Regions from separate parts of the Homo sapiens genome. Here region 2 is linked to region 1. The links come from fine-mapping of genetic effects on gene expression. Tissue or cell type: monocytes after interferon gamma. Region 1 holds a variant in brackets; the other region holds the start of a gene. All regions are shown on one strand. Distances are from middle to middle.

The links. PIP is the estimated chance that this variant, and not a neighbour inherited with it, causes the effect.
Region 2: it holds the start of LPCAT2, and the variant in region 1 is fine-mapped to the expression of LPCAT2 in monocytes after interferon gamma (Fairfax 2014, PIP 0.95). The same link has a PIP of 0.9 or more in monocytes.

The regions. Positions count from the first base shown.
Region 1 is chr16:55,582,217-55,584,972 of GRCh38, forward strand. It overlaps LPCAT2 (lysophosphatidylcholine acyltransferase 2), which reads left to right. Exons shown (of 14, transcript NM_017839.5): 14 at 698-2,756. The coding sequence ends at 882. Among named protein-coding and RNA genes, the nearest start is that of CAPNS2, 17 kb to the left of the region's middle. The variant C/T (reference allele first, on the strand shown) is at 999.
Region 2 is chr16:55,508,131-55,510,630 of GRCh38, forward strand. LPCAT2 (lysophosphatidylcholine acyltransferase 2) reads left to right here and starts at 942. Exons shown (of 14, transcript NM_017839.5): 1 at 942-1,222. The coding sequence starts at 1,052.

The DNA of each region.
Region 1 (2,756 bases):
ACAACTCCAGAAACCCCTGTGTGCCCTTTCCCAACCACACCCCTACCTCTCTCTTAAAGAAGGGGGTTGTTATCCTGACTTAAAAAGGAATCTCTGCCTTGCTTTATTTTACTTTAACAGTTCACCCCTAAAGTATGTACCTTTAAATATTAAATTTTAGTTTTGTCTAAGTTTTTGGGCTTTATATAAATAGACTCATACAATTATGTGTTACTTTATATCTTGCTTTTTTCATTAAACATTATGGCTTTAAGATTAATCCACATTGTTTCTACATAGCTGTTTATTCATTTTCATTGCCATATGGCCTTATGTTCCATGAGTATGACACAATTTATTTATGCATTTCTACTGTTGATGGACATCCAAGTTGTTTTTATTTTTTATCTATTATAAATAATGTTGCTGTGAACATTCTCATACATGTCTCTCAGAGCACAATATGCACAAATTTCTCTAGGATATATACCTCAGAGTAGAATTAATGGGTCAAAGAGTATGTATATCTTCAACTTGACTAGATAATGGAAAAACTATCTCCCAAAGTGGTTGTACAACTTATATTTTCATCAGCAATGTTTGTGTGTTGGGTAGTAGAATTTTGTAATAATTGCATTATTAGAGTCATTTATTAATCTGCATCATGCCAAAAGAAGATTCACCCCAACTTATTGGATTTTTTTTCTTTCTCTTCTAGAGGAATTTAAAAGTTTTGCCTTAAAGCATCCAGAATATGCTAAGATATTTACAACATACCTAGACCTCCAGACGTGCCATGTGTTTTCATTACCAAAAGAAGTCCAGACAACCCCCTCCACCGCCAGTAATAAAGTCAGCCCTGAAAAGCATGAAGAGAGTACCTCAGACAAAAAAGATGACTGAAAGCAGTATTTCCAATAAGGAAAACACAGTAGCTTTTGCTTGAAATTGTAAAGGCACTTATTGATAATACTTTTAATGTGTTGGTAATGATGTTTAAAATTGAAAGATTTTTAAAA[C/T]AAAAATGATAGATTTTCTTACTAAAAATGTTTTTATTAACCTTGCTTTTATTGGAAAAAATCAAGCAATATTTCGTTTTCTTTTGTGTTATATTGTACTTTACTGATTCATTTACTGGTGATACATATGTTTTTATGGATTTTCCAGTTTAATTTGCATATACAAATGAATGCAATGGTCTATTGGTGAGCATTGAGCAACACTGTATAAAGTTTTAAAAATGTAAACACTTTTTAATCTACTTTCCTCTAAAAATCAATAATATTCTATTATTTCTAATCCTTTTCCACTTGGGAAATAACAATGAAGAATCTGAGAATTTGACATCTATAACTTTACAGATTCATTTTTCCATTTAAATTTCAGTTTCTTGGATCACTGAATATGGGAAGGGAGAGCTTCACTAATTAGACGCAGCTTCTTAAGAACTTATATTCTCTTTGACATACATCTCTATTGTAGTTTTTTGTTTTGTTTTGTTTTTTGAGATGGAGTCTTGCTCTGTCACCCAGGCTGGAGTGCAGTGGTGCAATCTCAGCTCACTGCAACCTCTGCCTCCTGGGTTCAAGTGATTCTCGTACCTCAGACTCCCGAGTAGTTGGGATTACAGGTGCCCACCACCACACCCGACTAATTTTTGTATTTTTAGTAGCCATGTGGTTTTGCCATGTTGGCCAGGCTGGTTTCGAACTCCTGACCTCAGGTGATCCACCCACCTCAGCCTCCCAAAGTGCTGGGATTACAGGTGTGAGCCACCGTTCCCGGCCTATTGTAGATTTTCTTAACTACTTGCTAAGGAAATCATATCCTTTTACATGAACTACAGGTTTAGAACTTGGTTTTAAGACAACTGCTATGGCCAGAAGGTAAATGGGAATTGCCTTATTGAAGGTAACATTGATTGCCTAATAAGAAAATGAATTGTTTGCCACAGAGTTGAATTTAATTTGAGTTAGATAGTTCAGAATGTAGCACTTGCCCTATAAATGAATCAGATTTGTTCTATTTATATAATATTAGAATTAATATATTATCATGTAAGTGGGAATTTTATTTTGTTAAGTGGACTCTCAAATTTTAGAACTTGTGTGAAATATCTCCCAGAAAACACAAAAGGTTTCAAGGTATCACCCAAAGCTAGGGAATCAACAAACGTACTTTATTAATGCAAGACCACAATTTAAGCCCCAGGCAGGAATCCAACAGTAACATTTTTCCTTTAGGTTAAGCAGTAATTTTTTTGAATTGTCATTTTTAATGGGTCTCACACATGCATATTGCTAATATCATTCATGTTTGAGGTTTTCAACAAAGAACCAATTTATTAATATAATGTACAAAAATAGTTGGTTCATTTTCTGAATTCAGTCTTTGAAATAAAACTCCTTGTTTTGGCCGTGTTTCTGAATGTATTGGTGATTCACCCCCAAGCTAATTTTTTAAAGTCATTTTTGAAGTTGGGAAGTCTCATGAGAGATGTTGAAGTATGTATTTAATCAAGAGTCATGATTTCAAACTAGTTTTACATATTAAGCAGTTAGTGTTCTAATTTAATGGGTAAATGTGTGTTTGGATAAATATCTGAAAATTTTATCCTTAAGTATATATAATTATTTGCCTCTTATATGTCTTAAAGCTATTTAAACAAGGTGTTAAATGAGCCAAAACAATTAAGTAATTAGAACAGTACATTTTTATCAGAGTGTCTGTCATATGCAATGAATGTATGTAATACTAAAAAATCATGACTACTTTTA
Region 2 (2,500 bases), 74 kb before region 1:
TTAGAATGAATCTCCCATTCCTAGACAAGGAAGCAAACTCAGGTTAAGTGACTGACTCAAGGCCACACATCTATGTGGTAGGGCTGGAAGATTCTGACATTCAGAGGGTAACTTTGGAGAACCCCAGGGCTCAGACTCAGATTTTCATCCTGGCCTTCCTACCTGCTGTGAGAAGAGTTGATCAGTTGGGATGAGTTGATTATCATCTCCTTCCTTTAACTCTCAGCCACTCAGGGTTGATCAACTGTCCTCAGATAATGGGACAAACCCCTGCCCTCCCACCCCCACGAGCACCCACATAGGTCCAAACAGGCTTGAACTTCCTCAGTGTGAAAGGGAGCCACAGCCCAATACATTTCCCTTTTCTGGGTCAGGTTCCTCATCTAGCGTGGAGGGCAACTGTAATTTTTGCCTTTTCTGGTAATAGTAGCTCAGTTTTCCTCTGGAGAACCATCTCTCCCCTGTCAGTCCATTATGTTTTGAGTGAAACAAATTCCACTCCTAGTGCCATCATGGGTGTATTAATATTAGCTCACTTAATGGAACAGCCCAGGGGAAGTGGTTGCTCAATGGCATTACTGGATCCAGGTTAGGATTATCTGAGAATACATTTATCTGCATTTTACGGAAGGCAACCGAGGTTCATAGAGATAGTGATTTGGCCAGCGTCACAGGCCCAGTAAAAGGGATTGAAAATCCAGGTCCGTCCGACCCTAAAGCAGGGAACTCTGCCTAGTGTCTCGCTGTGGAATGTTAGGGATCCTGGGGTACCCTTCAGGGTCTTGGCTCGGAAGGAAAACATTCCCCTCCGAGGGGATGGACTATATTACCAAGGGGGTGGAGCCAGATGCCTGAGGGGGTGTGGCCAGAGCCTGGGGCGTGTCACAGCCGAAGGGGCAGGGCGGCAGCAGCAGGCGTCTAAGTAACTTCAGCGCCTGCGCAGAGGCTCCCCAGCGTCGCCCTAGGCTGGGACTCTAGTAGGTCTTCGGCTCAGTTTTGGCTGCAGCGCCCGCGTAGATCGCTTCGGCCGGGTTCTACGCCCGGCTCAACTATGAGCCGGTGCGCCCAGGCGGCGGAAGTGGCGGCCACAGTGCCAGGTGCCGGCGTCGGGAACGTGGGGCTGCGGCCGCCCATGGTGCCCCGTCAGGCGTCCTTCTTCCCGCCGCCGGTGCCGAACCCCTTCGTGCAGCAGACGCAGATCGGCTCCGCGAGGCGGGTCCAGGTGAGGGGCGTGGGTCTGAGGGGAGAGGTGGTCTGAGGGGGGCCTAGGTCAGAGGGGGGTCCAGGTAAGGGGTGTGGGTCTGAGAGAGGAGGGCGGCCGAGGGGGGCGTGGGTCTGAGGGAGTGAGGTGGTCCGAGGCGGGCGAGAGTCTGAGGAGGGAGGTGGCCTGAAGGGGGCATGGGTCTGAGGAGGGAGGTGGCCCGAGGGGAGCCAGGGTCTGGGGCGGGTCCAGGTGACTGGTGTAGGTCTGACGGGGGAGGGCGGTCGAGGGGCGCGTGGGTCTGAGGGGCGTTGTGGGTCTGGGAAGCAAAGGCATCAGAGGAAGAAAGAGCAGTGGATCTGAGAGGAGAGGACTTCTGAGGGGCCGTGAGCCTGAAAGGGGCGGAGATGTGTGTCTGAGAATTGAGGACATTTAGAGGATGGTCTGAGCGGGCACGGGAGGAGAGAAGATGCTGGGAAGATGCGGGCCTGAGAGGAGAATCCAAAACAGGAAGAGACTGAGCTGGCTGGTGGCGCAGGCTACATTCCATGCCCCAGAAGGTTGAAGGAATCTGTGAATCTGTGACAGAAGCTTCAACTTGAGTTTATGAGAGTGTAGTGGGAGGCAGATCTACTACGGGAGAGTAGATTTGAAGAAGTCTTTTTTTTTTTTTTTTTGCCTTAGGAAGGAGAGGAGTCAGTATGGGATGGATAAGAGTGAGGCAGAAGGCAGAGAGCCTAGGTCTGTGGTTAGAACAACAGGTAAGGCTGGAAAGATTTAGCTGAGCAGGAGCATGATGGAGGGTGGGAAGTCAGAATCAAAGAAAAGGGACAACTGAGTCAGCTTAGGATGTTCAAGAAGTTTTGGTCCAGAATCAGTCTTCACCTAAAAACGTTTCCTAAGTTGAAGCATGAGAAGTAGTAGCCCAGGCTGTTTTCCATTGTTAAAAATGGCTATACTGTTATGCACAAAGGAAGTTTCCTTTCCTTTCCTTTTTCTTGTAAAGGGTTCCTTTTACCATTGGCAGTTGCACTCTTTGGACTTCCTCTTTGTTGAAGTTAGTGATCAGAGAACAAGATAGACCCTGCTAACCACATTTGTCCGTGTGTTCTGCGGGGGTTGGGGGGGTGGGGGAACAATTTTGAAGTTTTCATGTCCATCTCACACATTACTTTGGATTTGAAGCAGTATAATATTTGCAATCAGCTTGTATGCACTAAGACCATTGTCCTCTACAGTGGGGGAAGGTTAAGTGCAGAGCTAAACAACACAGGTGGTGGCTTGAGTAATGGTAGATGG